4 linked regions of the Homo sapiens genome follow. The protein of the gene in region 1 interacts with the protein of each later gene in a pairwise test. Each region holds a gene or a part of one and is shown in the gene's direction. Other genes may lie near its edges.

Region 1 (3,500 bases):
TGTATTTTCAGTACAGACAGAGTTTCACCATGTCCACTAGGCTGGTCTCGAAATCCTGACCTCAGGTGATCTGCCTGCCTCAGCCTCCCAAAGTGTTGGGATTACAGGTGTGAGCCACCACCCCGGCTCTAACCACCTTTTAAATTGGGCCTAGTTTCCTACTAAATGATGGGCTTTGCGGTGAAGCCTTTTTGGATCTCTCATTCCCTACACTCAGGTGTCCTAAGGACTTGACCTTGTGCAAGGTTTTAAACAAAGTAAGTAGGTAAGGTAAAGAAAATGAGTGCCTTGTCAGCTCTTTGAAGAAGCTGAAGAAATGTCAACATCAGCTTCAACATTATTTTAAGATTGTGTCATTGAAACAGTGAGACCTTACTTGCTCCAGGGAAATTAGAAGAAAAAAGCATTAGCTCCAACTTTATTAAGAGCCTTTAACAGATACCGTTAATTTAATATGGCAGGTATTTAATGGTCATTAAACTACCATTTAATGTGCCATAGTTATAAATCAAGACCGTGGTTTTAGGTTTTATTTGTGATGTGCCTTTTTATGTTTTCTGTGTGTTAAAAGGATAGAGTAAGATCAGATGGTAGAAGCTACATACAGACATCAGCTCTGTAAAGGGAGAGCTTTGGAGTCACAAGAGCTGTCTGAAGCTGCAGACAGCTCTCAGGAGGCAGCGTGTGCCATTAGAAGTGCAGTAGCAAGGGAGTCACGCCGCACAGGAGCGTGGTGATTATATTTAAAATGTCATGAGTGCACTTGATACTGTCCATTTTCTATGGCATATGGGGCATTATGTCACTGTTACAAACAAGTATGGAATCTTTAGGTGCTTCAGCTTTGTTTCATGGCACATTGTTGGTCATCCATTTGGACACTTTGAAAGGGGAGGAGTTCCAGCTGGGCGTGGTTGCTCACGCTTGTAATCCCAGCACTTTGGGAGGCCAAGGCGGGCGGATCACGAGGTCAGGAGATCGAGATCATCCTGGCTAACAGGGTGAAAACCCGCCTCTACTAAAACTACAACAACAAAAAGAAATCAGCCGGGCGTGGTGGCGGGCGCCTGTAGTCCCAGCTACTCGGGAAGCTTAGGCGGGAGAATGGCGTGAACCCCGGAGGTGGAGCTTGCAGTGAGCTGAGATCGCACGACTGCACTCCAGCCTGGGTGATAGAGCCAGACTCCGTCTCAAAAAAAAAAAAAAAAAAAAAAAAGTTCCCTTATCCCCTTCACAGGGCATGCAATGGGGGTATGGCTTTCTTCTTCAGTGCCCCACAGCTCAAACCCCTAGGGGAAGCATGCGGACGGACAGGTTGTGGGGAGGATGGGTTTCAACCCCGCGGCAGCATCTAGGGTTGAGTGGTTACAGCTCCTGGAGCCCCACTGGGTGTGTGTTGCAGTGCGTTCTTTCAGCTTAGCTGTCCACAGGCAGCTTGTGTTAATCAGTTCAATTAGACCCTCTGCCTTATCGCAAGGACAGAGGGCTTTCTGTATCCCAGGTTCTTGCCCTAGTGTACTGAAAAAATCAGATCATGTGGGCTTGGAGAATGAATGCAAGATTTATTGAGTGGTGGAAGTAGCTCTCAGCAGATGGCTGGGGAGCCAGAAGGGGGATAGCATGGGAAGGTAGTCTTCCTCTGGAGTCTGGCTGCTCAGCAGCCGGGATCTCCTACTGTCCTTGGCCGAATTTCCCTTGGCGTCCGAATCGTTCCACCATCAATGGCCTGCCAGCGTCTTTCGATGTGTTCTTCTGCCAGTGTGTTCCTCTTGACGTCCAGCCGCTTGTGTGTGTGCCCGCTGGGGTCTCAGGGTTTTTATAGGCACAGAATGGGTGGCATGGCAGGCCAGAGTGGTCTTGGAAAATGCAACATTTGGGCAAGAAGACAGGAGTCCTTGTTCTCATTAGGTCCATGGGCACAAGCCTGAGGGTGGAGCCCTTGCCAGTGACCCTGCCCTTCTCTACCCAGCACTTCCCTGTCCCCCTCCCATATCACCGTTGCCATCTTGTCCTTGATGAGGAATACAACTCCCAATTACAGTGTTGCTGTGGGAGATGCAGTCCTCTTTATGACAGTTTCTAGAAGTTGATAAGAAAATGGGACCTGCCTAGGGCTAGTATCTCATTTAATACTCTATAGAATATTATGTGTTTTTCCTTTTTAGTTTTTAATGTTGAAGATCAGAAAAGAGACACCATAAATTTACTTGATCAGCGTGAAAAGCGGAATCATACACTCTGAATTGAACTGGAATCACATATTTCACAACAGGGCCGAAGAGATGACTATAAAATGTTCATGAGGGACTGAATACTGAAAACTGTGAAATGTACTAAATAAAATGTACATCTGAAGATGATTATTGTGAAATTTTAGTATGCACTTTGTGTAGGAAAAAATGGAATGGTCTTTTAAACAGCTTTTGGGGGGTACTTTGGAAGTGTCTAATAAGGTGTCACAATTTTTGGTAGTAGGTATTTCGTGAGAAGTTCAACACCAAAACTGGAACATAGTTCTCCTTCAAGTGTTGGCGACAGCGGGGCTTCCTGATTCTGGAATATAACTTTGTGTAAATTAACAGCCACCTATAGAAGAGTCCATCTGCTGTGAAGGAGAGACAGAGAACTCTGGGTTCCGTCGTCCTGTCCACGTGCTGTACCAAGTGCTGGTGCCAGCCTGTTACCTGTTCTCACTGAAAAGTCTGGCTAATGCTCTTGTGTAGTCACTTCTGATTCTGACAATCAATCAATCAATGGCCTAGAGCACTGACTGTTAACACAAACGTCACTAGCAAAGTAGCAACAGCTTTAAGTCTAAATACAAAGCTGTTCTGTGTGAGAATTTTTTAAAAGGCTACTTGTATAATAACCCTTGTCATTTTTAATGTACAAAACGCTATTAAGTGGCTTAGAATTTGAACATTTGTGGTCTTTATTTACTTTGCTTCGTGTGTGGGCAAAGCAACATCTTCCCTAAATATATATTACCAAGAAAAGCAAGAAGCAGATTAGGTTTTTGACAAAACAAACAGGCCAAAAGGGGGCTGACCTGGAGCAGAGCATGGTGAGAGGCAAGGCATGAGAGGGCAAGTTTGTTGTGGACAGATCTGTGCCTACTTTATTACTGGAGTAAAAGAAAACAAAGTTCATTGATGTCGAAGGATATATACAGTGTTAGAAATTAGGACTGTTTAGAAAAACAGGAATACAATGGTTGTTTTTATCATAGTGTACACATTTAGCTTGTGGTAAATGACTCACAAAACTGATTTTAAAATCAAGTTAATGTGAATTTTGAAAATTACTACTTAATCCTAATTCACAATAACAATGGCATTAAGGTTTGACTTGAGTTGGTTCTTAGTATTATTTATGGTAAATAGGCTCTTACCACTTGCAAATAACTGGCCACATCATTAATGACTGACTTCCCAGTAAGGCTCTCTAAGGGGTAAGTAGGAGGATCCACAGGATTTGAGATGCTAAGGCCCCAGAGATCG
Region 2 (3,500 bases), 7.1 Mb from region 1:
CAGCACTTCCTGCTGTCTTGCTGGGGTTTCCTGCCAGGAACACAGACATGGAGCTGGGAGACCCTCTCAGGGCCTGCTTCCTGGGCTGGCCGGTAGGAGACGGTGCAGGGCTCCAGTGCCAGGCCCTGCCTGTCTGTGTGGCATCTGGGGAATGGGCACAGCAGCTCATGCCCACACTGGTGGGTCAGACAAGGGATGCCGGAAGCCCCAGGCAGGTCCTAGCATATGGTGGGGTAGAAGAGGGGTGCCTGATTTTCAGGTCGCCCCACCATCTGCCAATGCCTGCTGAGTCCAAGGGTTAGGGCCAGTGAGCAGGACAGGCTGCGAGCAGCCAAGGTGTAGACTGGGACCCCCCAGGCACCCAGGGCAGGCACCTCGTCCCTGTTGTCCCCCTGGGTCCTGCTCAGCACAGGAGAACCTGTGCCCCAGGCTGTCCTTTCTTTGCTGTGTGACTGTTTTGTGAGCCTGTTCAGCTGCTTTTGAGTCAGTGGAGTTGGTCGGGGAGGCAGAGTCTTTCAAAACAGTGAGAGCCAGGCATCAAGGAAAACAGCCCTGCCACCCACTGCCATGCGCTCCACCAGCCACGGGGCATCTGAGACCACCCCATTCAGTCCCCTCCACATCCTTGTCTACCCATTTTACAAATGAGGAAACTGAGGCATAGAGTGGTCAGTGTTGAGGCAGGACTCGGGGGGTAAAGGAGGTGCTGTGGCAGCTTCCAGCCCTACTCCTCACAGGCCCCTGGAAAGGGCGACTGATATGCATCACCACATTTGTGGGCCCACAGCCCCGACCCTGTCTCCTCCCATCCAAGCCCTGGGTGAGCCAGAACACCCATTATGCTATGGCCAGAGCCAGGCCGGTGGATGCAGCAAGCCTGGTTCATATCCCACTTCTGTGCCAGCCCCTCCTGCCTGAGCTGAGGATGCTCACTGAAGTGGCCCTAGGACCGACCGTGTGGCCCAGCCCCAACATGTGCAGCCTGCAGTGGGGAGGCCGACCGTCCACAGAAGGTTGCATGAGGAGCCAGCCACGCCCCTACACAGAGCTGACCTCCTCACCAAGCCTCCCTCCTAGCTTTCAGAGGAAATATATCTGGCCTGGCCCCAGGCCCCGAGTGCTGCTGAGGTTCTGGGAATCTATTAACCAGGGTGTTTATTCCCTGCCCTGCCCAAGCCATGGGCACTGGTCTCAGCAGGGCTTAGCTCCTGGCAGCTCCTGCTGGCTGGTCAGGACCACAGGGCTCCCTCACCTGTGGTAGCTGGGTCCCCCGGCCACCCTCAGGCCCATCCCAAGATAGAGGCAAGTGCCCAGGACTGGGGGAGAGTGGGATCGTCCTCCCTGGGACCCTCCTGTGTGGTGGTCAGCTCAGGGCTCCAAGGCCCAGAGTACCAAGGTTAGGGACAGGGAAGCAGACTGTCCCTGCTGCCCTCCCCTCCACATGATGCTCCCAATGTGGCCTGCTGCCTGGGGTGGTTGCCAGCTATGCTGTATCCTGGGGCAGCCCTATGCTTTGGGACACACAGTCCTGGGAGATGGCTCTGGGAAAACCTCCTCTGAGCTGCAATCTGCTGGTCTGTAGAATGGGAGAGGAACACAGCCTCTCCCTTGGTAAGCAGGAGTTTCCCAGGTGCAACCCTAGATATACGGAGGGGGAGACTGAGGCCAACGGAGGGGGAGCTTGCGTCAGGGCCACGGGCTGGGCTGTGGTGAGCCAGGGCTTGACCTGCATGCAGAAGCTTCCCTAGCTGCAGGTTGGACAGGAAGCAGATGGCCGGATGGGCTGGAAGTGCCCTTCACCAGCAGGGGTGCATGGTCAGGGCATTTGCTGGCCACTCGGGGCTCAGAGGCCATCCTGGGGCATCTGCTCCACAGCCTCGTGGTACACATGGAAGACTGAGGCACAAAGTGGGGCTAGTTGTCCGGACACAGCTGGAGCCTGAAGCAGGGAGCCATTGAGAGTTCAGCCCCTAAGGGACAATGGCATCAGCTACCAGAGCTTCTGAGCCCCGGGGCCTGGGTTCAAATCCTAGCCAAGCCCTCACTTGCTATGTGGCTTTGGGTAAGGAACCGCCTTTGCTGGGCTTCAGTTTACCCACCTTAAGTGGGCATGAGGACAGCAGGGGCACAGGCTCCTCGTGGCTGGGGGTGCTGAGAGCTGAGGCTTGGGGAGCTGGAGGCTCTGCGCGGATGGTGCTTTTTAATGGATCTGAGTGTTCCTCGTGACTGCATGGCTGTGAAATATTTAAATGGTTCTGCAGAGCTCAGAAAAAAAGGGAATTCTTCCTCCTGCCCAGAGGCCAACACAGTTAGCCTGGGCTTGTGTGTCTGTTTATGTACGTGTGCATATGTATGTATGTGCATGTGTATTTGTGTGTGCGTATTGTGTGCACATGTGTGTCTCACGTCTATGTGTGTCTTTCTGGGGGATGTGTGTTTCTGTGCTTTTGTGACTAGGAACACGCACATATATGTGTAGATGCCCCCAGAAGGTGGAAATCCTCACGGGGTCTGCACTTGGCCTTCTCCCAGCACCAAGTCCTGGGATGGAGACCCGAATGAGCATAAGGGTGGCCTTGAAGGAAGGCACTTTGGCACTTGAGGTTTGTGAAACTTAGGAGCACATGCCCACTGTGGCCAGCAGCCCCTGGGACACTGCACCTTGCGGAGCACACGTGTGATGGGGTGTGGCCCACTGGGCAGCTTCGCAAGAGCAGAACTGGAGACGACCTCAGTGCCAGGCACAGGCCCTTGTGTCCGGGCTGTCCTCACCCAGACCCTGGGCAGCCTGGGAGGAAGCCCCTAAGTGGACAGTGGTGGGACAGGGACACACAGTCCTGGGAGGTGGCTCTGGGCAAACCTCCTCCAAGCTGCAATCTGCTGGTCTGTAGAATGGGAGAGGAACACAGCCTCTCACTTGGTGAGTGCCCTGGCTGTGCTGGGGCCTGGGGGAATCCCAGGGAGTGCAGCGTCAGGCCCAGGGTGGGAGAGGCAAAGTAGACACCCCATAGAGGCTTCGGGGTATGCATGGAGTGACCCGAGAGCACACCAGGGCCCCAGGGACAGCGCTGCTGGGTGGCCCAGGTAAAGGCGGCTGTCCCTGTGCGCACATGTGTCCACGTGAACTTGCTACTTAGAGAGCAGCTGATGCTGAAGGCAGGTTGTTGGAATTCCCAGGCCCAGGTGTAAGCAGCAGAGCCCACCAGTGTCCCCTGACGCCCACTCTCTTCCTCCTGGGCACATAATTTTAGATGAAACTGAAAAACACGCAGCATGAAAGCAAGGCCCCTGCCCTCTGCTGGTTCTGTATTGGCTGCCTCGTGTATTTTTCCAGCCTGCAGAAAGTCGAGGCCTGGATGGATACCATGTCCGCCCCTCCCTGTGGCCCTGCGGCACCCCGGCCTCCCGGCCTGCATCTTTCATGAGTCTGGAAACAGGATCTCCCAGAGAGGGCCCCAGGAGGTTGGCTGCCAGCAGTGGGTTCTCACAGCTGCCTCCAA
Region 3 (3,818 bases), on another chromosome or scaffold:
GGTCAGGCCCTGCTCTCTCCAATTCCCTCTTCAGTGTTGACTCTCCCCACCCAGGAATTCCTGCCCAACCTCCCGCCCTAGGGCTGTCCTGGCATCGGGCCAGGTTGGCTGAGTAGAAAGATGACAATCCCAGGGCTACCCTTTCTCCTGTGTCCTGGGGATTCCTGCTCACAACAGCACACAGTGAATGCACGCTGCCCTGAGGGCGCAGTCTGAATGGGGTCAGAGTCTATAGGGGCGCGGGCACACCCAAGCAATTCCCCAGTGAGATCCGCGGAAAGGGGACTGTATCTGCAGGGGCAAGGGGGGCGGGCGGATTGGGGAGGAGCTCATTCGAGGACACCCTGAGGCTGCAGGGCAGGCAGGACAGGATGGGGACCAGCACAGGATGGGGACAGCCTGTGACTCAGACAGGCAGGAGGTCACCAGAGGGGCCAGGGAGGACCAGGAGCTGCTGTGGCTGCTAATAATATGGGAATGGACCTCTGCTGAGCACCTTCTGTGTGCCAGGCATTGAGCTAAATGTTTTTAAAACCTCACTTGATTCTCCAAACAGTAATGCCTACCACACACCTACCCCATGAGGTAGGTATTATTTTTGGTTCCCACAGGGGACACAAGGGACAACGAGACTCAGAGAGGGGAAAGCATTGGCCCAAGTTCACACGCCTCACAACTGGGCAGTAGGTGGAACGGAACCCAGGCTGTGCGGAGGGCTTCCTTGAGGTCGCGGCAATCAAACCCAGACCCTGACTTGCCCTGCAGCCTCCCCCGTGGAATTTCTCACATTTCCCTGAATATTCCAGGCCCGTCTCACCTCCTGGCTGTCCCTTTGGCATGAAATGGCCTTCTGTCCTCAGTCCCTTCTCTGGGAAAACTTCCACCCATTCTCCAGAGCTCAGCCCCCAGTGCAGCCCCGTCACCTCATCCTAGGATCACCCCACCCTAATCGCCCTGCGTTTCACTGTCGGGCTGGGCCCCCCTCCTCAAGGGCAGGGTCTGCCGGCCCCACACAGCAGCACAGGGCAGTCGTGAGTGAATGTGCCTTGTTGGTGAATGAATGCAGGACCCAGCCCGGCTGTGGGTCAAAGTAGGTGCTCAGGGAGGGGCCGGGGCCCCCCCTGCCTGGCTCTTATCTCCTAGGGCTGTCTCGAGCCTTATCTGATAAGGCCTGACAGGTGAGCAGATGAGACTGACAGAGGCTTCCAGGTTACTCAGTAACCTGCCCTCTTTAAAAGTCCCGCCGCTTCCCCCTGGCATCCAGAACAGCCACCCCTCTCTCGGGCACTGCTGCCATGAATGCCTTCCTGCTCTCCGCACTGTGCCTCCTTGGGGCCTGGGCCGCCTTGGCAGGAGGGGTCACCGTGCAGGTGAGTCCTGTGTCCCTACCCCGGCCCAGCTGGCTCCCTGCCCCTAGTGCCCAGGTCTGGTCCCCTGAGAGAGTACCTCCTCTTTGGGGCTGGATTGAGGGTGTGTGTCCCAGGCTTGGCCTTCTTCGAGGAGCTCCTGCTCAGTCCAGCCACACACACACCTTTCCCTTCAACTTTGGAGGAGAAAGAAACCCAGTGGAGGGAAGAGGAATAACCATATGGGGAAGGCGGGGAGTTGGCCAATTTACTGAGTGTCCTATGTGCCGGCTCCTTCCCCAGCCCCTCACTGTGGCTCCACTATCAACCTGGAAGAAAGGGATCATTAGTCCCATTTTACAGAGGGGAAAACTGAGCCTCACAAAGGTTCTGTAACAGGCCATGGGCACATGGCTGTGGGAAGTGCAGGAGCTGGATTTAAATCCAGACCTTACTCCTCAGTGGGTCCCAGGAACCACATGGACACCCTGGAGGTCCTGACAGATGGGTATGCCTACCAGTGCCAATGCTGGCGACAGGCCAAGCTGGCACCTAGCGGGGGCCCTGATCTCTATCAAAGCCAGATTCCGGGAGGCCTTTTATTGCTTCTCAAACCAAAACCAGGCTGCAGGCTGGAGCTGGGGGCCCAGTAATCAGCCGCACCGCTCTCAGGCAGGGGAAAGACAGCCTGGGCTTGGCCACGTGGAACTACGATGCCTGGGTGCTGGTCCTTTGCCTCTCCCTAAAAATCAGCACACTGGCTCCTACTCATTAGGCACCTATGGTGTTCCTGGAGCTTCACACCCATTTTCTCCATTCCCCATACAACATGCAGAATTTGCGGGTTCCAGAGTGTCCAGCATCACGGAGCCAAGCCAGGACGTGGGGCCTGAACTCTGCCCCTCACAGTGCCCCACTGTGGATCGCCTGGCTCCCATATGCCACGAACACTGCCTGTGAGCACCACTGGGCTGGACCGGGGCCAGCACGGGGGGCACAGCCAGGAAGCAGGCTGCAGCCTGGCCTCATGCTCTGGGCTTCTCTCTTCCAGGATGGAAATTTCTCCTTTTCTCTGGAGTCAGTGAAGAAGCTCAAAGACCTCCAGGAGCCCCAGGAGCCCAGGGTTGGGAAACTCAGGAACTTTGCACCCATCCCTGGTGAACCTGTGGTTCCCATCCTCTGTAGCAACCCGAACTTTCCAGAAGAACTCAAGCCTCTCTGCAAGGAGCCCAATGCCCAGGAGATACTTCAGAGGCTGGGTGAGCAGCCTCCTTCCTCTCTGATTGGTGGGGTTCGGGAATACTGTGGTGGCACTTGAGGAAGAGATGTGCTCTGATTGGTGGGATTTGGAGGAAGGGCTCAGCTCTGACTGGTGGAACTAGGGAGCTTGGCTCTGATTGGTGGGTCTGTTCCATGCCCACTTCAATTCCAAGTTGTAACTGCTGAGGTTTGGGAACTAAGACCATTCATCTGGTCTTAGTTTCCTCTCTTTCTGGTGGAATCTCTGCTTTGATTGGTTGGTTTGAGTGGTCTGTGTGCCCTGGTTTGGGGCGAAAAGCCCAGTAGGTCAGAGTACGGGCCTGCTGAGATTCTCCTGGGGCTGGGTGGTGACGTACAAGCTCTGGGCCAAGGGCGGCAGGGGCCTCGCGAGGAAATGCTGGTTCTCACGAGGCTCCATCTCTGTTGTGCAGAGGAAATCGCTGAGGACCCGGGCACATGTGAAATCTGTGCCTACGCTGCCTGTACCGGATGCTAGGGGGGCTTGCCCACTGCCTGCCTCCCCTCCGCAGCAGGGAAGCTCTTTTCTCCTGCAGAAAGGGCCACCCATGATACTCCACTCCCAGCAGCTCAACCTACCCTGGTCCAGTCGGGAGGAGCAGCCCGGGGAGGAACTGGGTGACTGGAGGCCTCGCCCCAACACTGTCCTTCCCTGCCACTTCAACCCCCAGCTAATAAACCAGATTCCAGAGTACTCTGGGTGTTGCCTTCCTTCCTTCCTTCATCCCCTAGTCTATCCTGCCCTGGAAGCTCGGGATGTAATGTACTAAGCGAAGGACCCCACTCTCCCTGCTAAGCTGCTCACTGTCCCTGGGGCTGCCACAACACAGAGGCGTGGAGAGGATCTGGATCTCCAAACCACCAAGGCAGCGGGTGGTGGGGAGGGTTTGCTTTTATTTCACATCTCCTGAGGTCACCAAGTTCACTGAGCCACATGTGAGCACGGGAGCCAGTCTGAGCTGGTTTGGACAACCAATACAGGCACTTGGCCCACTAGAAGACTGGCACCAAACTCTTGGGTATTCAAGGACTTGGCTCCCACCAGCCATGCTAGTGTGGCCTCCAGCCCTGACCACATCCCAAACCACACCTCTTGCCATTTCCTCTGCTGCTGCTCACCTCTCCACTGCCCGTCTTCCCACACTACTGTCCAGGCAAACTCCTACTCAGGGTCCAAGGCTTTCATTCCACGGC
Region 4 (3,500 bases), on another chromosome or scaffold:
CAGCCTCCTGAGTAGCTGGGATTACAGGTTCCCGCCACCATGCCCAGCTAGTTTTTGAATTCTTAGTAGAGACCAGGTTTCACCATGTTGGCCAAGCTGGTCTCGAACTCCTGACCTCAGGTGATCCACCCGCCTTGGCCTCCCAGATTGCTGGGATTACAGGCATGAGCTACCGCACCTGGCAATAAATTGCTTTTGATTTTTTTTATTTTGCTTTTTCCTGGAGTATATTAAAGCAGTCTTTGACATAGTGTTTCACACATTAAAAAGTCAGCATTTTAGCATATATCTCTGAAAGATAAGTGCTATTCCAGTGACAATGCCAATATCACACCTAATAAAATTAATAATTTATTTGTATCTAATTCATGTTTAAATTTCTCTAGTTTCAGAAATGTTTCGTTTATGATTATGTTGTTCAAATCAGGATCCAGACAGGATCCACATATCCGGTTTGATTTTTGGTTGTTTTACTCTCTCAAGTCTGTAGCTGTTACCACTGTAACTTTTTCTCTTCCCTCCATTTATTTGGTGAAGAAACCAGGTCATTACAGAATTTCCCAACATTCTGGATTTGTTAGGTTGCTTCTTTATGTCATTTAATTAGCTTCTCTATACGCTGCATTTTCTGTAGAGTGGGTTAGATCTGTAGTGAGGCTATGCAGTAGACCTTTCTGTGATAGAAATTTTTCATACCTGTGCTATCCGTTACAGTAGCCACTAGCTATTGAATACTTCGATGGTGACTAGTGAGGCTGAGAAACTCTGTTTTGCTTTGTTGTTGTTGTTGTTTTTGTTTTTGTTTGTTTGTTTTTTGAGATGGAGTTTCATTCTTTTTGCCAAGGTTGGTGTGATCTCAGCTCCCCACAACCTCTGCCTCCCAAGTTCAAGCGATTCTCCTGCCTCAGCCTCCTGAGTAGCTGGGATTACAGGCATGTGCCACCACGCCCGGCTAATTTTGTATTTTTAGTAGAGACGGGGTTTCTCCGTGTTGGTCAGGCAGGTCTCGAACTCCCGACCTCAGGTGATCCACCCGCCTCAGCCTCCCAAAATGCTGGGATTACAGGCGTGAGCCACTGCGCCTGGCGGAAACTATGTTTTAATTTTAATTTAAATTAAATTTCAATGACCATATGTGGCTAGTGGCCTACCATATTGGACGGCACAGATCCAGAGGGTTGGTCAGATCCATGTCCAGTTTCTTTCACAAGAATACTTAAATGATATAGCGGCCTTCCTGTTACATCGTTTTAGGAGGTATAGAATGTCTTTCTGGCGATGCTAAAATTAGTAATTGATTTAGATTTTGAAAGATTAATCCATCTGTTATAAAGATCCACATTGTCCTTTCATTTAATGGTTCTAACAGCCATTGTCATATGATTATTGCCTAGGTCTATTATTTTGAGGTTTTTTTTATGTATTGAATTTATGATCAGTTACAGTCATCATTCTTTTTTGATGTTCACATTGTGCCATCTGTAGCCATTAGGAATTACTAAGTTGGTTCCTGTATTTTTTAATTCCTTCCCCCATTTATCTTTGATAGTTTCTTGTTTTCTGGAATAGTAAGACGTCCCAGGCTCATGTATACTTCCTGCGTCATGCCTGGAATCAGCCATGTTTCTAAGGAACCGTGATCCTTTTAATAGATAATACTATTTGGAAGCAACAATTTGGATGCTGACATGTTCATTCCTACTGGTTGTCATTGTTTCTGGGTCTTTTCAGTAGGTAGTGCTAGGTAAATCATGAATTAATGGTGATATTTCAAATTTATAAATACAGGCTAATTTTGGGTTATGTTATACTTGTATCATTTTTATCTTATGCTGAATATCTTGGTTCTTCAAATGATGTTGTTACTTATGTAAGTATCACAACATATATGTGTTTCTAAATAATACAGTATTACTACTAACAATAAGACTGTTAAATGCAATTTGGGCTTTTGTTTTCCTTGTCTTTAGGACATATCCCACTAGAATGTAATGTCAAAACACTGTGCTTAAAGTCACTTGAAAGAATTTTTTTGTGTCATACAGCCACCAACTTAATAGTTAGGTTTTTTTGTTCTCTAATGCTAGGATTGCTTTTTCTTTTATTATTTTTTAATTGTGTTGAGAGTATAATGTAGTTTTATGTAGGCAAAATAAGGTAGAGTCAGAATTTTGGCTTCTGTCCTTTTCCCTTCCATCTACAGATAAGCATTTTTATTGTTTTGATTTATATTTTGTTTCTTTTTAAAAATATAAGTAAATATATAGATTTTTATATGCTCCCCTTTTACATAAAATGCAGCCTGCTTTGTACATTTCCATTTTTAACCTAAACCTAGAGATCACTCCATATCGGAACGTAGCCATCTTCCTCATTGCTTTGTACAACTGCATTTTATGTGTTGCATTTTATGGATGTACTGTAATTTATTTAACCACTCTCCATTTGGTGAATATTTGAGTTGTTTTCAGCTGTATGTTGCTATGAATAATGCCAGGATGAACCATGGAGCAGCATTTTGCATGTGTCACTGCATATTTTTTGCCAGTTTATCTTGGGGAAGCGTACCAGTAAAATTGCTAGGTAATTTCACCATTACATTTCTCTGCATATGAGTTGAAGCATTTTGCATTCCCACCAGCAGTGTTTGAAAGTACTGTTCTCAAATGGAGGAATATGAGGCTTTTTTGTTTTGTTTTGTTTTTTAATAAAGTTAGTACGAGTAACCATATTGGTCATGTTTTACTTAAATTGATAGGCCTTCAAGATGGCTTTTAGTTATCTCAGGAGCTTTAGAAATTATCTATTCCCAGACCTGGAGAGATTCTGATTTAATTGGTTATGGTAGTTGGGGGCATTTGCTTTTTTTTTTTTTTTTAAAGCTCTCCTTGATGGTACTGTGCCACAAGGATTGAGAATCTCAGATTATAAAACTACCTTTCCGTCTATTCAAATAGTTGGTAATTTGACTATTAAAAACCACTTACTCTGGCCAGGTGCAGTGGCTCACACCTGTAATCCCCGCACTTTGGGAGGCCCAGGTGGGTGGATCACCTGAGGTCAGGAGACCAGCCTGGCCAACATGGCAAAACCCTGTCTCTACTGAAAATACAAAAAAATCAGCCAAGTGTGCTGGTGCGTGCCTGTAATCCCAGCTACTCAGGAGGGTGAGGCAGGAGAATCACTTGAACCTCGCAGGTGGAGGTTGCGGTGAGTGGAGATTGCACCACTGTACTCCAGCCTGGGCAACAGAGCGAGATTCTGTCTCAAAAAAATAAATAAAATAAAAATTAAAAAGCAGTTACTCTGTGTATGTCTGTAATTTGTTTACAAGTTTCTCTTTTGACAATAATTTTGCATTCAGCAAATACTTCCTAATTGATAGGATGAGGAACCCAGAGATTCAGATTGTGACTTAAAACTCTTATAATATCAATTCCAAATATAGATAAATACAAAACCATGATTTATGAGACTATGTCTGTAACTTGTGGGGTTTT

Evidence for each region.
Region 2: the proteins of GOLM1 (region 1) and NINJ1 interact in binary tests that used the Homo sapiens proteins (3 or more experiments, as listed by UniProt).
Region 3: the proteins of GOLM1 (region 1) and GUCA2A interact in binary tests that used the Homo sapiens proteins (3 or more experiments, as listed by UniProt).
Region 4: the proteins of GOLM1 (region 1) and TMPO interact in binary tests that used the Homo sapiens proteins (3 or more experiments, as listed by UniProt).

The regions. Positions count from the first base shown.
Region 1 is NC_000009.12:86,026,559-86,030,058, reverse strand, and holds part of GOLM1 (Golgi membrane protein 1), read left to right. Parts: intron 1-2,165; coding exon 2,166-2,242; 3' UTR 2,243-3,500.
Region 2 is NC_000009.12:93,127,752-93,131,251, reverse strand, and holds part of NINJ1 (ninjurin-1), read left to right. Parts: intron 1-3,500.
Region 3 is NC_000001.11:42,162,190-42,166,007, reverse strand, and holds GUCA2A (guanylin precursor), read left to right. Parts: upstream 1-1,262; 5' UTR 1,263-1,295; coding exon 1,296-1,370; intron 1,371-2,397; coding exon 2,398-2,605; intron 2,606-3,037; coding exon 3,038-3,102; 3' UTR 3,103-3,318; downstream 3,319-3,818.
Region 4 is NC_000012.12:98,539,590-98,543,089, forward strand, and holds part of TMPO (thymopoietin), read left to right. Parts: intron 1-3,500. UniProt on the Homo sapiens protein: May help direct the assembly of the nuclear lamina and thereby help maintain the structural organization of the nuclear envelope. Possible receptor for attachment of lamin filaments to the inner nuclear membrane.